Linked DNA regions of Homo sapiens. The protein of the gene in region 2 interacts with the protein of the main gene of each other region in a pairwise test. Each region holds a gene or a part of one and is shown on either strand. Other genes may lie near its edges. The genes, in order: KIAA1549 and ITSN2.

The links.
Region 1: the proteins of ITSN2 (region 2) and KIAA1549 interact in a two-hybrid assay, tested with the Homo sapiens proteins (one study listed by BioGRID and IntAct).

What each region holds. Positions count from the first base shown.
Region 1 is NC_000007.14:138,913,767-138,923,310, forward strand, and holds part of KIAA1549 (UPF0606 protein KIAA1549), read right to left. Parts: intron 5,673-9,544; coding exon 2,982-5,672; intron 1-2,981. UniProt on the Homo sapiens protein: May play a role in photoreceptor function.
Region 2 is NC_000002.12:24,348,934-24,358,477, forward strand, and holds part of ITSN2 (intersectin-2), read right to left. Parts: intron 1-9,544.

The DNA.
Region 1 (9,544 bases), on a different chromosome or scaffold from region 2:
CAACTCCGCATGGCCCACATAGGCTCCAAGTGGGTTGGACTATGCTATAGATCTGAAAGGGAAAGATAAAATGAGGAGGAAGGAAAGGGGGAAGAGTGGCAAGAAGGAAAGATGCCTTATTTAAGGAAGGAAATGAAGAGGGAGGGAGAAATGAGGAAAGAGGGAGACAGGAGGGAGGAGGGAGACAGGAAGGAGGAGGGGACAGAAAAGGAGGAGGGAGGGAGAGGAGGGAGAAGGAAAGAAGGAAGGAAGGAAGAAAGGAAGGGAGGAAGGCAGGGAGGGAGGGAGGGAGGCAAGAGCTAAACTCGGGGGAAACAGAGGCAGAATGGGAAGTCAGAAACAGAAAATCCCTAAATAGGAAAGCAGGAAGAACACATTGTAAGCAGCCCCACACAGCTAAAGACATCATCGGTCTAAATGCCACTCTGCAAAGTCCCCACAGCCACCACCATGACCTCCACTTTCTCCAGAGAATCTGAGAAAGCTATAAAACTGCAACATTAGGATATGAGGACACCAGTCTTTGGGAAAAGGGATCATCAGCAAACAAATATCTTACAGATCTTTTCCTAAATGAATGTTTCCCAGAGCTAAGAGAAGAGAGGTGACAGAGACTTCCAGAGGCAGCACAGGGTCAGAAAGGCCCTGGGTGGAAGCGCGGCTCATGCCTCCCAGGGCGCGTGCAGGCAAGTGCTTCCTCCGCCATCGCAGACCCCCAGCACCCAGAGTGGCTCCGCTTCATCATCACAGAGCACACAGGAAGAATCCTTTCAGGGGTACGCGGAGTCACCTCAACCCCCTCACCACACTCTCTCACTAACGGACAACCATGAAAAGGACAGCAAGGTCCAACCTAAGCAAAGGTAAGAAATGAGCCGATACTTCCTCTGGGTCAAAGGTATCACCAGGAACAAAAATGGCACTTATCTCCGCTAAAAGACACAATTTAACAGCATGGACACTCACACACAACTCTGGACATTTACAAAAACTGTTCAAGTGTACTTAACAATGGCTGAATTTTACTCCAAAGAGCTGTTAAAAATACATGGATACCTAATACAGGCACCAAATGTCATTAAGTGTACACCACATATGAAAGTTAAATCCAGCTATGAGGACTCCTAAAGAAGCTTTCAGTGACTCTTTAAATAAGCTGCTTACAACTGACCACTTTGTAACAATTTTGTACCTACTTTGTAATAATTTTGTAAGAAGGAAGAAAAGTATCATGAGCATGAGAAACTCTTTTCCCTCCTCCCTGGACTGCTCTAATCTTCAGATTCAAGTTCATGATGTTGCTCCAACCACATTTCCAAGCATAATTACCTGCTCCTCCCATCACAATGCCTAATCTCCAGCCATGATGACAGTCTCCTCCCCCAGAAGACACTTTCTCTTCATCCCCAGATGACAATTCTACTTTTCCTTTTGTGGGAATCCCCAATTTCACATTCTTCCAAACCCGTCTCTGATTATCCCAAATAGCCACTCTTGGAGAATTCCACAGTCACTGCTATTACTCTGTGGTTCAGTACCACCCTCTAGGCCCTGAGCTGCTCACAGGAGGGCCGTGTCTTACCCATCTGTATATCCCTAGAAGCTTCCAGAAGCACCTCACACATACTAGGTGCTCAATCATTACTTGCCATGTGGAATAACGAATGTTTCCCTTTGGCGTGTGGGGAGCAAAGGCTGTCCTGGACTCATTCTCCAAAGCCATTCCCACAGGTAGGGTGTTGATCACTGACGTGTACCTGCCATCAGGATCCTCGCTCCCACCTGCCCAGAGGGATGTGGCACTGTCACAGTGAGCAGAGGCTCCCAGCAACCCCGACCACAGAGAGGAAAAGACCCAGCGTGTTCTCCTCCTTCTCCCCCTTCCACATTCTCTGCTCCTCTCCTTCCCGGTCCACTCCACCCCACTCCTCCCTACCTCTTCTGCCGTTTTCGTCCCCTTTTTCATTTCTGTCCTCCACTCCTACCAAAATCAAAACAGAGGACAGGCTGCTCGTCACCACCAGGCTGTGGTTCAGCACACAGTCATGACCCTCGAGACCACATACACCTGTCATGTCTCATGAGGAAAAATGCAGAGACCCTGACCAAGCGGGCCACCGTCGCGGGACATGACCCTTGAAATCAGTCTACCTCTCAGGCATGCCCTCAGGTGGGCACCAGCTTCACGCGGCCACAGCAGCCATGCAACTGCAAGGGAAGCTGCTGGCCAGTCTGCTAGCAACCCAGGCTGTGGTGGGGAGGAGACCAAAGGCTGATACTGGATTCAGAGGATATTTAGTCACTACTTTTCTTTCCTCGGGACCCAAGGAGCATTTACAGGGACCTATAAGAGCAAAGAGTCACTTTACTTTTCTTTCCTCGGGACCCAAGGGGCATTTACAGGGACCTATGAGAGCAAAGTGCAGTCTCCTTTCAAGGAAAAGTAAGAAGAGTAAATGAGTAAGAAATTGCAAGGGTTGCCCTTACATAGTTGCCCAACTCATTGCTTGAATTAAACAAAAAAGTATTTTGTTTAAACTATGTCATCCATGCACCTACTGGGTTATGGTAGGACAAAGATCCTACCAAGAACTTCCAAGGCTTGTTTAGTTCTTGTATTTGTTCTAATATTTATTCTCCTTGTGACTGCTGACTAATATGCACCATCCCGTGCATGCCTCTGATGTACTAGGCAAGGGCTGAGCGTTCTGCAGGGACTAACGCATTTACATCTGAACAACAGCCCAATGAAGCAGGTTTAACTAAGCTCCTTGTTTAATGGGTGAGGCAGCAGACGATTAGAGAGGATAAATAACTGTTCTGAGAACTCGCAGGAGGTAAGCATAGGAGTACTACCTGGGAGTTAACTGAGCCCAGCGCCTCTGCTCTTAACCATGAAGCTCCAAGCCTCACAGGCACTGCACACAAGCTCCTTAGAAAGATTGCCCACCCCAGAGAGGCGGCAGGAAGCTGGGCCTTACCAGTTGTGATCAGATAGGCATCGGGGACTGTGATATCACAAACATATGGCGGCTTGGCAGTAGCCAGTGTTGGTGTGTCGACTGTTGCTTCGAGAGTGAAGGCAGTCACGGGACGCAGGGATGGCAGGGGAGGAGCAGCACTACTCTCTGGGGGGCTCTGACTTGCGGCGTCACCCATCAGGGTGGAGTCGAGGGGACCACCAGTGGCAGCACCGGTGCTGGTTGTGCTCACTTCCGTGGAGGTGTTCAGTGGCACCTCTGTGGGTGTGAGTGATGGGCCCACGACGGTCAGCTCTGTGGGCAGAGGGAAGGGGGTTGCTTCAGAAACAAACGAGGATCCTGATGGCAGGTACGCGTCAGTGATCAACACCGTACCAGTGGGAATGGCTTTGGAGAAAGAGGCCAGGACAGACACGTGACCGTCTAGAGCACTGATTTGGTCGTCAGGAGGTGTCAGAGTTGAGAACAAAGAAGACTCAGTTAAAATGGGCGTTGTGTGGACAGTGGTCAATGGTGATGTTGCTTGAATCCCGGCAGTCAAAATGTCAAAAGACTCAGAGCCGGGGGGCACCAGTGCAGTGACTGCGGATTCATGGGAAATGAGTGAAGACTCAAGATAGGAGGTAGTTTCAATGAAAGCTGAGGTAAAATGAGCTTCTGAATCCGTCAGTGAAACCGTAGACGCTTCAACAAACTCGAGAGAATCAGAAGGGAAGCTTGACCATGGTGACACCTCAGAACGGCTAGGTAGCAACATGATGGTGTTTAAAGGCAGCTCGGAACTTGGCTGGAGCTGCGAAAACTCAAGATTTGTGGAACTGGGAAGAGACAGCTGAGATGACTGCAGATCACTAGAGTCAAACAATGTAAATGTCTCAACCAAGGGAGAAAAAGACTGAGATGTGAAGGGGGACAAGTCACTCGGCATCAGAGACAGAGACGCAGGTGCTTCCGAAGGCGAAGAGATGGAGCCGCTGAGTTCCAGCGGGGGTGTTGAGAAAAAGCTGGATGCAAAATCCAAAGCACCTCTGGGTTTATGCTCAGAAAAACTGGAACGTTCTTGGTCAGAGAAAAGTGAAGACTCCACTGAAGGAACCAGACTATAAGGCGTAAAAACACTCGGGTCTCTGACGGCAAGCGACGGTGTGTTTTTGTTTGCTATGACAGAGAAAGATGAGTCAAGGAGAATGCTGGTGATGACCGAGAAAAATGCAGTGGTCACGCTGGATGGCGTCACTTGGGTTTCAGCAACAGACAAGGAGCCAGCAGTAGGATCAAGTGACGCCGGCACAGAGAGGCGGCCGTGGGCAGGGGGAACCTGTGTGGTTGTAACACTACTCATATCCACCTCGGCAGAAATGCCAACACTCGTCTCTGAGATTTCCATGGATCTAGAAGAAAGTGGGACGATAGGTCTGGAGGGGAAAAGCGTATTAAATACTTGAGGATCTTCCTCAAATTCAGAGAAGTCTGCTACGACGCTACTCATTAGAGAGATGCTGCTTTCTTCCAGCACGGTCATGCACAGAGTCTCGGCACCATCCCCTGATCCCACGTCTTTCTCCATGAGGCTCGTGGCCAGAACTTGCTGAGGTGAAGGCACAGTGCAGGCCGCACACCAAGTGTATGGTCTGAATGAGGACACCGGGCTCAGGATATGAGTGTTGTCCACAGGACCGGGGAGGGCTGAATTGCTATGCAATTCGGATGTTTTGCTGGAGTCGCTAGGGAGAAAGGGGTTAGATGAAACATCAGTTGGTGAAGCAGAGGACGCAAATGCAAGAGGAGTTGAAAGCAATGGAGAATGTGTCCTGCTGAATGCAAGGGCTGCGTGCGATGCAGTCACAGTGGGGTATGTTCTTGGAGAGATGGTTTCTTCTAGGCTTTGACTCAACACAGTGGTCACATCAGTGTATCTGTCTGCACTTGTGGCCCAAACCTCCTCTGGAGGCTGTGAGACCTCCCCCAAGGAGGGCAACGGTATAGTAATGCCGTCGCCTAACGGCTGTGGCATTAAAGACCGGGAGCTTAAAAAAAGGGTGGTTTCCACACCCTCTGTTAGGGAAGCCACAATCTCTGGCAGAGTCCTGCTTGATAAATGACTGTAAGCATCAGTAGGATAAAGCACCAAATTCCTGCCAGGAGTTGGAACGATGCCCTCAGAGGTGCGAAAAGCTGACCGAAAGGTGTGGAAATGACTGGCGGACTCAGCATATGCCGCTGGTTGTCGCGTTGTGTTCTGCCAGCCCGATGTCACTTCTTCATCTTGTAAAGAAACCATGGGTAATGATGGAGTGAGCATAGGTTCTAATGCTTCCCTGGGCAGCCCTGGTGGGCTGACTGTGATATACTGTATTGGAGAAACCATCCGTGGAGTGGTCCAGTGAGTATCTGGCAGAAAGTTATCCATCTCATCGTCATTGACGGCCACCTCTTTACTCGTCACTGACACGTAAGTTGCCACAAAGATGCTGGGATCTGCTGTACTTTTGGTCTGTTTTCCTTGGTTAAAAAAGGCTGTATCAAAAGTAGTGGCAGACGGCGGGGCTGTGACATGGAGAGGACTGCTGTGCTGGGAGCCGGGAGCAGTTTCTGTTAAGGCCACTTGTGCAGCGCTGTGCCCAGTGCTTTTCTTCAGCACGAGCTCCATGGAGTATAAAGAAAGGTTGTGCTGTTCCGGAGAGAGCTCATCTATCAAGAAAATCAGAGCTGGGTTAGTGCAATGCATTGGAAGTCACACAGCTAACGTTTTGTTTCAGGCATGAGAATTTACTCATTTAACAAACATCCATTCACCATAAATATCCATGAATCACCGTCAGAAGTTAAACAGCTAGCTGGAAACGAGAAATTGACAGAATTACCATCAGGACAATATCTGCAAATATTCCTAAACTTGGGCACTGTTTTTACCTAAGCTGTGTATGTGTGGGGGTGGGGAGGGCATATTTACAGTTTTTCCCACAGAACCGTAGGATACTGGAAACAGAGGGGGCTGTTCAGTCCATTTTCTCTCATTTATGACATGAGTAAAGAAAGGTTTCCAGAAGGTAAATAAATCAATTATAAGACCACCCAGACAGAGTGGAACTGGAATCTGAATATAAGGCTTCCTTGACTCCAAGGCCTGTGTGTTTTCTCTTCAGTGATAGGAGCTGGCTGCTACGAGAAATGAACATGACAACTCATTGCATCTCTCACTACCCAAGTAAGAGAGTTCCCCAGTTCCTCAGCTGTGCTCCCCAACACAGTTGCTGAGGCTTCCACATGAAGGCCCCAGGCTTCCTGCAGCCTCAGCTTTCACCATTTCCTGCCCCACTCTAGGCCTTCCCAGCTATGCTCTGGCACCTGCAGTGCCCCAAACCCAAACACTCTCTGGCCTCCATGGCTGTGCACATTCTCACCCCCGCCTGGAATGCCCTTCCCAGCTCTCTACATGGATGGATCCTCTCACCCCCGCCTGGAATGCCCTTCCCCAGCTCTCTATATGGATGGCTCCTTCTGGCCCTTCAGATGCAGCACAGATATGAGCTTCATCCTCGATGCTCTGAAGTTGGATTCGTGCCTCTCCCTAGGCTTCTCCCTGTCCTTATCATGCCCACTGAAATGAACTATCTGATCACTAGATTCTGGGCTTCCTAAGGACAGGCATTGTTTACCTGTCTCCCCAGTGCCTAGCACAATAAGTGCTAGGAGCTCAATTGACATCACTTGGATTGATGAATGAATGAATGAATGAATGAATGAAATCCAAGGATACCAAGTTCTGACAACAAAAGCCAACATTATCCCATCATCCATTCAAACTTTTGTATTCCTTAACTTGTGACTGCTGTCATTATCATTTAGTAAGTTGAGGCCTCTCCACCGATAATTCAGGTATGACATAGCCTAGAGAAAAAGGACAAGTGATGGCCCAGCCACTGATGAAAGCCCAGGGCCCAGGGACTGTCCTCTGCAGCCCAGGCTGAGAACTGAGCAACTATCAAAATGCATAACAACACCTCGTTTCTCTAATCCCAACAGTCTATCAGAACATACCTGTGTGAAATGGTATAAGGACAGTCTTGAATTTACTCTATTTTTTTAAGTAAGTCATTTCTATTCTGTTTCTAGCAACATGGCAGACTAGAGATCTTGAAACTGTCTACTTCAGAACATTTAAGATTGCTTAATAAATGTTTAAAAACCATCTTCTAAGTGACTGGATGGCCTGCAAGACAGTAAGGGGAACGTGCTGAATCCAGGAATAAAACAGGAGCTGCTCAAGGGCAGTGACTGGGGACCCAAGGCAGGTACTGGACCAGCTGGCCTGTTGTTTAGGCCACAACGGAGATGAGGGACAAGTGTTAGCCTAGATAAGGAAAGAACCCAACTGAAGACCATTTTCCAAAAGTGGAGGCCCAGGAAGTGTCATAATCTCAGGGAAAGAGTGAATTAGGAAGAAAAATATCCACTTTTCAGAAGACAGCAAAAACAGGCATCGGTTTCTAATAGTGTCTGACTTGAGAACACCTTGGACTGACTTTCCCTTTTCCCTGTTGAACTCTCCTCAGTCTCTCACTTCTGTTCCTCAGGATCATGTCCTAGAATAAAATATGCACATAAACCCACGTCTCAGACTTTGCTTTCTGGCGGAAAACCCAGGTTAAGACACTGCTATGGCTTATGTATTACGTGCTCCCAATATTCCTATGTTGAAATCCCAGGACCTCACAATATGACCATATTCGGAAACAGGGTCAGTGTAGATGTAATTAGCTGAGATGCGGTCATACTGAAGTAGGGTGGGTCCCTCATCTAATATACTGGTGACCGTATAAAAGATGGAAATTTGGGCCAGGCGCGGTGGCTCAGGCCTGTAATCCCAGCACTTTGGAAGGCCGAGGAGGGCGGATCATGAGGTCAGGAGTTCGAGTCCAGCCTGGCCAACGTGGCAAAACCCCATCTCCACTAAAAATACAAAAATTAGCCGGGTATGGTGGCACACACCTGTCATCCCAGCTACTCAGGAGGCTGAGGCAGGAGAATCGCTTGAACCCAGGAGGCGGAGGGTTCAGAGAGCCGTGATTGCACCACTGCACTCCAGCCTGGGAGACAAAGTGAGACTCCGTCTCAAAAAAAAATAAAAATAAAAAAAGGCAGAAATTTGGACACAGACATACACAGAAGGAGAACACCATGTGAAGATGAAGGCAGAGAGCATGATGATGCGTCTACAAGTCAAGGAACAGCAAAGATTGACAGCAAATCACCAGCAGCTAGGGGACAGCCCTGAAGCAGATTCTCCCTCACAGGCTTCAGAAGGAAGCCACCCTTGAACTTGGACTTCTAGCCTCCAGAACGGTGAGACAATCAATTTCTGCTGTTTAAGCCAAACAAGGGAAAAGTATATGTCTCAGCTCTGACTTTGTATAGCTATTGTACGAAACGTCATCCCGAGTGTGGAACCTATACTACTTGTATAGTCCTAACAACTGTATGCTTAGAGTCATAATTTAAAGTGGACCAGGTCTCCAGCGCCTGTCAGAAACTAACATAAATCACACCCAGAAGAACATATTCACAGTCTGGTTTCAAAGTATTCCTGCAGCTAGAGTTGCAGAGCACAGAAGTAAAAATTATAAAATACATAGGAAAGCAAAGTACCATGAACAAAAGTCAAGAGAAATCCCATGAAGAAAGTATTTTTTTAAAAGGCCAACTAAATTGAATCAGATCTATAAAAACTTTAGATATTGGAATTATGAGACCCATTTTTTAAGGTTATATTTAATTCATTTAAAATAATAAAGACTGAAAACATGAGTAATGAGCAAGAGACTATAAAAGTTGGCCAGAAATATTTTTAAAACATTTAGAAATAAAAATTTTATAATTAATAAATTTTAAACTCAATATACATGTAAAACAGCAATTTAGACAGAGCTGAAACAAGATTTAGTGAACTGGGGGATAGGTCTGAAGAAATTACTCAGAAAAGGGAACAGGGAAACAAATAAATGTGAAATATTAAAAAAAGAAGTTAAGAGACATAGAAGACAGAATAAGACAGTCCAACATACATTTGATCAAAGTTTTAGGAAAAAAATAAAATGGAATAGGGTAGATACAATATTCAAAGACATAGTGCTAAGAATTTGCCAAAATTAATATGAGAAACGAACCATGCAATTCAGAAAGACCAAAAAATCCCAAGGAGGGTGAATTAAAAAAAAAGAAAAATCCAAACCTATACACATCATGATACCATAGACCAAAGACAAAGAGAAATTGTAAAAGCAGTCAGAGAAAAAGGAAACAGCAGCTAAACTTAAGCAAAAATAACTGCCTGACAGAATTAGAAGCCAGGTGACAATGAAACAAAATCCTCAAGTGCTGAGAGAAACTCTCTGACATCTCAGAGGTGAATAACCAGGAAAAATCTCTATCAAGACATTTTCAGCTTAACAGTGGTTATACCAAAAGAAGACCCACAGTAAATGAGCTTCTAAATAAGGATAACCTTCAAATAGAAGGGTTATTGCCTCAGCAGGAAGATCTGAGAATAGAGAATAAATGAT
Region 2 (9,544 bases):
AATATCAAAAGAATCATCCAAGAAAGCAAACATAAAATAATAATAAATGTGGGCCAGTTGCAGTGGCTCACCCCTGTAATCCCAGCACTGCTGGAGGCCAAGGCAGGATGACAGCTTGAGCTCAGGAGTTTGAGACCAGTCTGAGCAACATAGTGAGATTCTGTCTCTACAACAACAATAATCATCATCATCATCATCATTATCATCATCATCAATATGCAATGAGAATTTTTTTAAAGCAAACTCCAAAATCTAACAGGGAAAAAAATTACCAGGAAAAAATAAAATAGAGATATTGTAACATGGAATTTGTTACACTAAAACCAATAGCATACCCAGAAAACATCCTTCACTCACAACACCACCTAACCAAAGCAAGGTCTCACTTCCCCCAAATATTTCAAACCACAAATTTACAAATTCTTTTCATCAACCTGAATTATTTAATTTGAGTGGTCATAGACTTTTTTATTTTAATCTGATAAAACCTATGGTTGTTCTCCCTGGAAAAACACAAATGTACAAAATATGGCACATAATTCTGAAGGTTTCACACATCCAAAGCCAACTGTAGACTTTCAGACAGTTCATGTGTTCCATAGCTTAAATGTTTAATGATAACATACACAAACCCTCATTCTTAAAAAAAGATAATGAAGTGGGAAAGACCCTTCCAATTATGTAATCCACTCATTCCCAAACTATTTTTTTAAAGGAATAAAAGAATGGCTACTCCATAGGCCGAGCAGCAGCCTCATTCCCAAACTATTCTAACCATCACCCACCTAAGTAAGACAAGAGATCCAGCCTACCTACCTCCTCCCATTTTCTAGTGCAAAAATAACTCCCTAAGGAAGAATTGTAGCAATGTAACAAGTACACAAGAGCAAAACGGTCCACAAAAATTTAAATGTAACATTAATTCTACAATTGTATTAATCCAAAAATAACAGCAACTGGAACCACAGCCAATTTGAGACAACACCACTGATGTAGTGAAAATATCTTCTGAGTGTGGGCATGCATAGTACTAATTTTCTAGTGCTGCCAAAGCATGGTATAGCTGACAGATTTCTTAGAAGAAAACTAAACTAGAGCCCTCGGTAAGTTCTAGAAACCAGCTAATTTTAGTTGTGAATACTAAATTTCAGTAATCCTTAGTAACTCAGATTATTGGTAGGTAGCCTATTCTAATACATAAATATCAGAGGTTATGGGAATGGAATAACAATAGCCCCTGAGAACTGAGGAGACGGCTTGTATTTCTGGTTCATGATCCATTAGGAAAAGCTTCTGATCTAGTGAGTGTCTTGGACCATACTGAGGAAGCATTAATCTAAGCCAATAATTTTCAACAATTTTTCCACTGTGATTCTGAGTAATGGCTCACCAATAGTATAAAATTAACCTCCTAAACTGGAACCCACATACATTGCTGGTGGGAATATAAAATAGATCAACTGCTTTGGAAAACAATTCAGAATTTCCTCAAAATGTTAAACATAGGTTACCATGTTAAGTCAGCAATTCCACCCCTCAGTATGAACCCAAGATAAATAAAAACATGTCCCAAAACCTGTACACAAATGCTCACAGCAGCATTATTCACAATAGCCAAAAAGTAGAAGCAACCGAGTGGAAGCAAATGTCCATCAACTACAGATGGATGAATGAATAAACAATAAACAAAATGTGGTATATCCATATAATCCATAAAATATTATTTGGCCATAAAAAGGAATGAAGTACTGATCTATGCTATAACATTGATGAATCTTGAAAACACTATGGTAAGTAAAAGAAGTGAGTCACAAAAGACCATATATTGTATAATTCCATTTATATGAAATGTCTAGGATAGGCAATTTCATAGACACAGAAAGTAGACTAGTGGCTACCTAGAGCTAGCGGTGTTGAGGGAGATGGAAAGTGACTGCCATTGGGTATAGGAGGTTCTTTTAAGAACGACGAAAATGTTCTAAAATTAGATAGTGATACTGGTTGCACAAGTCTGTGAATATACTAAAAAACACTGAACTGTAAACTTTAAAAGGGTGAATTTTACAATATGTATCTCAATAAAGCTGTTTTTAAAAAATCTATTCACGTGACATACAAGGTGTTTTAGGCTCTATCTTCCGCCTACCCTACCAGGTATTTCAACCTCCCCACCTCCACCTCCACTTGATCTTATTCCCATGCCTCCTCTCTTTGCACCTGTGGAACTACCTGCCTTCTGAGTGACACTTCTACTAATAATAGCTTCCTTTGCCACAGTCCCATTTTGTCTTGTATTATCTCATTAAACTACATACCAGCTAGTATTGTTACTTTTGTTTTCACGCCTGCCCCGCTTCTATTAGACTGTGAGCTCCTGAATGGCTCTTTAACTTCATATACCTAGTGCCCAGCAGTCACTCACATGGTAGGCACTAAAATATTCTTTAATAAGCACAGGTTAGCATTCTTTCAACTGCACAGAAGACAAACCCAGCAACTTGAGTTTGAATCCCAGTGCAAGTACTTCCTAGCTTTGTGGACTTGCACATGACATAGCTTCAATTTCCTAACCAAATAATGTGGATACAGTAGACCCCCTTATCTGCAGTTTCACTTTCTGAAGTTTCAGTTACCTGTGGTCAACCATGGTCTCAAAATACAAAATGGATAATTCCAGAAATAAACAATTCATAAATTTTTAATTGTGCACCATCCTGAGTAGCATGGTAAAATCCTGCATTGCCCGCATCTGTCCCAACCAGGATGAAAACCATCCCTTTGTCCAGGGTGTATCCACTGTGTCTATGCTGCCTGCCCATTAGTCACTTAGTAGCTGTCTCAGTTATCAGACCGACTGTCACAGTATCACAGTGCTTGTGTTCAAGTAACCCTTATTTTACTTAATAATGACCCCAAAGTGCAAGAGTAGTGAGGCTGGCAATTCGGATATGCCAAGGAGAAGCCACTTCCTTCAAGTGAAAAGGTGAAAGTTCTCAACTTAATATAGAAGGGAAAAAATTGTATGCTGAGGTTGCTAAGATCTACAGTAAGAACAAGTCTTATATCTGTGAAATTGTTAACAGTATATTGTTATAATTGTTCAATTTTATTATTATTAATCTCTTACTGTGCCTAATTTATAAATTAAACTTTATCATAGGTATGTATATATAGGAAAAAACATAGTGTATATAGGTTTCTGTACCATCCATGGTTTCAAGCAACCACTAGGGGTTTTGGAATGTATTCCTTGCAGACAAGCAAAGTACTACTGTAATCGTACCTAAATGCCAGGTTATTTTAAGGCTTAGATGTCATGTCTGGAAAACATCTGGCACATAGAAGGTGTCCATAAATTATGATTATTACAACAATTATTTCAACATTATTTTAATTATAATCACTAATCAACTTTTAGTTGTAATCACAATCACTAATCACTAATCTAATTTGTTTTACTGAAACAAATTAGAGTTGTGCCAATTATTAATAAAAGGACATGTTTTTCTCACTTTAATCAATATTTGAGAAAAAAGTTATCATTTCTATCTAGAGGCTTAGGGTCCCAAATATACAAAGCATTAAGACCTAAAAGCCTCAAAGAGGATAACTTCTCTATACAAACTTAGTTCTTAATTCTAGTTCTGCAATTTAGCAACCTCAGTTTAGATTTTTAAACACAAATTATAAGCTCAGATTTTTATAAATATTGAGTTTAGCCTTCAAAAAAATCAACCAATAAGCCAGGAGACATAAAAGGACAGGAATAGCAAACTAATACTGAAGTGGTTAGTACTCAAATTCTATTGAAGATTTAAATCAAACCAATTTTTGAAGAATAGTCAACAACTCTGAACAAGACAATTCACCCACACAAAGGGGGATAAAAATACCTAAGAATAGCTTGTGACTCAGCCTGCATTCCTATAAGGGGTCCCAGGGGGACTGATAATATTTAGCCTATTGTCATCTGTCTCATATCAGAACTAAATATTACAGCAAAACTATTTACTTGACATGAATAAAAAGTACAGAGGGAAAGAAATTCAGACAGATGCTTCACTTTCAAGTAAAACATCACCTCTTTGAAACAAAGACAACTTTTAAGTTTTGAAGCCATACAAGAAAACAAAAGAAAGAATAAGCAGATTCTATATCATCTATATAACAAATATTTAAAACTTCCTTGAAAACAAACTTAAAAGGTAAATGGGGAAAAATCACAACACATGATAAGCAGTTGATATTTTTAATGTACATAGGGCTATTAAAATAGATAACGAAAACACTAAGACCTCAAATAAATAATCTACGAAAGAAGAAACAGAAGAAATAAAAGTAGTTAATAAATGTTAACATCACTAATAATTAAGAAAACGAGGCTACCCACAGTGGCTCATGCCTGTAATCCCAGCACTTTGGGAGGCTGAGTGGGGGCGAATCGTCTGAACTCAGGAGTTTGAGGCCAGCCTGGGAAACATGGTGTAAACCTGCCTCAATAAAAACTACAAAAAAATTAGTTGGTCCCAGCGGGAGGCTGAGGTGGGAGGATGGCTTGAGCCCAGGAGAAGGAGGTTGCAGTGAGCTGAGATGGCAGTGAGCTGAGATCCCGCCACTGCACTCCAGCCTGGGCAACAGAGCCAGACCCTGTCTCAAAGACAAAACAAAACAAAACACTGGCCAATACCCAGGGCTAGCAAAGGTGAATTAAATAGGGTGCTTGCAGGTACAGCCCATGGGAATACGTATTGGTATCACTCTTCAGAAGGCACTGTGAAAACATATATCAAGAGTCCCACCAACATTCATATCCTATAAAGCAATAATTTCATTTCTGGGAATCTGTCATAAGGAAATAACAGTAAATGTGGGAAATGCTTTAATTACAAAGATATGGCAGCATTAGTAATCATTGAAAAAAACTAAAAATGAATGTCCAAAAATAAAGGAATATACTAAGCCAAGTATCATGCTTCCACTTAAAATCAAATTCATATGATATGTGAATTAAATCTCAATAAAGCTATTTTGTGATCAAGTTCAGTTAGACCACATAATAACATGGAAACTGCTTATGTTCTTACAATTTAAAACTTACATTTTGATATAAATGTGCATATTTATTATGAAAATTAAAACAGCAGCCATCAATCATCAATATTTACTAAGTGCCAAGCCCTACACTACAAGTTGTTACATGTTATCATGGTTACCTCATTATCACTGATACCATCACCAGGCCCATCCTGGAAGGGTCTCAGGCCCAAGGCCATCACCAACTGTGGGGCTGGCCCAAGATAAACCACACTTTAAAGAAGGCTTCACTAAACATTTTCATAGGCCCCTTGAGAATGTTAAAAACAAATTTGGAAATTGAGCCCAGTGGGATTGTGGGTCTGTACTACCCTACTTTTCAGCCTTCTTATATAGATTATTCCGATGGTAAGATTAAAAATTAAGGGCAAAAGGCTAATTTCCTTTCCAGTCACGGTGTAAAACAAAGACCAAAATAAGAACTATGTTAGGTTAGTTTGAAATTTCTCACTGAACCAAGTTAAAACAACAGGTAACATTAGGCACTTACACTAAGCAGAAGTCACTGTGCTAAGCACTTTATATTACATATAACAACACTAGGAACTAGCTAATATTTCCCCATTTCACACATAAGGAAACAGAAGCTGAAGAGAATTAAAGTAACTTGCCCAAGATTATACAGTTATTTGGTGTCAGAGCTGGAAGCAGGTCTAACTTCAGAGGCTGTACTCTTATCCTCTATGGTTATGATGAAAATAAATGAAATTTTTATTAAAATCACATATACTTTATCTAAAATGAATACGCATTCGTGAAGAAAATGATCTTAAAAATATGAAACAGTTAAATAAAACAAATGTTTACCGTCTGGTAATAGTCCCCTAATCCACTAAATGTCTGCCATAATCCACTGCTGAATAGCTCCACAAGTAAATAAATCATTTAATGTCCTGATGTATCTATGAAATTATATTTTAAGTGAACCTTTTGAAACAATACTATACATTCTGCAAATGAAATATGCTGCCCTCTTGGAGCTGTGAAAATACATATTTCTTGATCTATTAACTGTCCTAATTCTGTTCAGTTTCCTCCCTTCCTCTCCCACTTCCTCTTTGCTCTCATATCCTTTAAGACCAGTTCAGTTCCTCCTCCTCAAGAATACCTATATTCACACTTTACCCAAGAGAACTCTAACATTAGTTTCTGCGCTCCACAGCTGTAGGATGTTACAAAATCCAAAAAATGAACTCAAGTAAAAAATACAGTATTTCTGATGTACCTTCAACTTTAGATCTATCCACTTACAGAATTAATTATAAACATTCTTATTTTTCTACTTCACACTTGGAATCCTGTCTTTAAAATCAGCACACAGTAACCAAAACAGCATGGCACTGGTACCAAAACAGACATATAAGCCAATGGAGCAGAACAGAGACCTCAGAAATAACACCACACATCTACAACCATCTGATCTTCAACAAACAAGACAAAAACAAGCAATGGGGAAAGGATCTCCTATTCTGTAAATGGTGCTGGGAAAATTGGCTAGCCATATGCAGAAAACTGAAACTGGACCACTTCCTTACACCTTATACAAAAATTAACTTGAGATGAATTAAAGACTTAAATATAAAATCCAAAACCATAAAACCCTAGAAGAAAACCTAGGCAATACCATTCAGGACATAGGCATGGGCAAAGACTTCATGACAAAAATGCCAAAAGCAATTGCAACAAAAGCCAAAATTGACAAATAGGATCTAATTAAACTAAAGAGCTTCTGCACAGCAAAAGAAACTATCATCAGGCTGGGTGCAGTGGCTCATGCCTATAATCCCAGCACTATAGGAGGCCGAGGTGGGAGGATCACCTGAGGTCAGGAATTCCAGACCAGCCTGGCCTGCATGGTGAAACCCTGTCTCTATTTTTAAAAAATTACAAAAAGGCCAGGCATAGTGGCTCACATCTGTAATCCCAGCACTTTGGGAGGCCGAGGCGGGTGGATCACCTGAGGTCAGGAATTTGAGACCAGCCTGGACATGGTGAAACCCCATCTCTACTAAAAATACAAAAATTAGCTGGGCATGGTGGCAGGCGCCTGTAATCCCAGCTACTCAGGAGGCTGAGGCAGGAGAATCACACTTGAACCCCGGAGGCTGAGGTTGCAGTGAGCCAAGATCGCACCATTGCACTCCAGCCTGGGGGACAAGAGCGAGACTCCATCTCAAAAAAAAAAAAAATAGCTGGACGTGGTGGCACATGCCTATAATCCCAGCTACTTGGGAGGTGAACCTGGTAGGCAGAGATTGTGGTGAGCCAAGATGGCACCACGGCACTCCAGCCTGGGAGACAGAGCAAGACCCTGTCTCAAAAAAAAAAAAAAAAAGAAAGAAAAAAAGAAACTATCATCAGAGTGAACAGGCAACCCACAGAACGGGAGAAAATTTTTGCAATCTATCCATCTGACAAAGGTCTAATATCCAGAATTTACAAGGAACTTAAACATATCTACAAGAAAAAAAAAACCCCACCAAAAAGTGGGCAAAGGATATGAATAGACACTTCTCAAAAGAAGACATTTTTGAGGCCAACAAACATGAAAAAAGGCTCAACATCACTGATCATCAGAGAACTGCAAATCAAAACCACAATGATGGCCGGGTGCAGTGGCTCAAGCCTGTAATCCCAGCACTTTGGGAGGCCAAGGCGGGTGGCTCATCTGAGGTTGGGAGTTCTAGACCAGCCTGGCCAACATGTCTCTACTAAAAAGACAAAAATTGGCAGGGCGTGGTGGCAGGCGTCTGTAATCCCAGCTACTCAGGAGGCTGAGGCAGAAGAATCACTTGAACCCAGGAGGCGGAGGTTGCAGTGAGTTGGGATCGCGCCATTGCACTCCAGACTGGGCAACAAGAGTGAGACTCCGTCTCAAAAAAAAAAAAACACAATGAGATACCATTTCATGCCAGTCAGAATGGTGATTATTAAAAAGTCAGGAAAACAATAGATGCTGGCAAGTCTGTGGCGAAATGGAACGCTTTTACACTGTTGCTGGGAATGTAAATTGGTTCAACCATAGTGGAAGATAGTATGGCAATTCCTCAAGGATCTAGAACCAGAAATATCATTTGACCCAGCAATCTCATTAATGGGTATATACCCAAAGGAATAGAAATCATTCTACTCTAAAGACACATGCACACGTATGTTTACTACAGCACTATTTACAATAGCAAAGACACCAAACCAACCCAAATGCCCGTCAATGATAGACTGGATAAAGAAAATGTGATATACATACACCATGGAATACTATGCAGCCATAAAAAGGAATGAGATCATGTCCTTTGCAGGGACATGGACGAAACTGGAAGCCATCATCCTCAGCAAACTAACACAGGAACAGAAAATCAAACACCCTATGTTCTCACTCATAAGTGGGAGTTGAACATTGAGAACACATGGACACAGAGGGGAACAACACACACCAGGACCTGTTGTGGGGGGGCAATGAGGGAAGGGGACTTAGAGGACGGGTGAATAGGTGCAGCAAACCACCACGGTGCACGTATACCTATGTAACAAACCTGTACGTTCTGCACATATATCCTGTTTTTTTTGTAAGAAATAAAAAAAAATCGGCACACAAGAAAGTCTGCCTTTCTTCAAAAACAGTTTTTTCACAAATTTTTTCCATAAATAAAAAAGGTACTAAAAAAACTTGAATCCAAAAAAAGAAAAAGAAAATGCACCGTTAGATGGTAATAAATATATCACATTTTTGGTAATGTAACTCGTTTATTCTGAATCATTTCTGGAACTTGTTAATATAAATGTTTTACAAGTAAATACAATATGTAAAAATGCTACTTAATGGACTAATATGTACTTTCACTCATTCACTAAACACATATTTTTTACTGAATGCCCATATAACTTTTTTTTTCTTTTTTTTGTTTGAGACGGAGTCTCACTCTGTCGCCTAGGCTGGAGTGCAGTGGTGCGATCTCGGTTCACTGCAACCTCCGCCTCCCGGGTTCAACGATTCTCCTGCCTCAGCCTCCTGAGTACCTGGGACTACAGGCGCACGCCACCATGCCAGGCTAATTTTTTGTATTTTTTAGTAGAGACAGGATTTCACCTTATTGGTCAGTCTCAAACTCCTGACCTGGTGATCCGCCCTCCTCGGCCTCCCAAAGTGCTGGGATTACAGGCATGAGCCAGGGCACCCGGCACATAGATAACTCTTTTTTAAATGTATGAACCAAGATGACTCTACCAGATAAGGCACAGGTGCTGCAGTTAAAAGGATCTTGGTTTGAAACCTGGCTATTGTACTTACTAGCTCAGAGACCTAAAGTAGTCAAACTTCAGGTTAACATTTCACTTACCTTTTTGATGGGAAGATAATAATTACTCCTAGGGCCTTAGTGAGCTTTAAATGATTATGTAAAACACTTAGCATAGAGTCTAACATGCAGTTACGTGCTCGATAAATGACAAC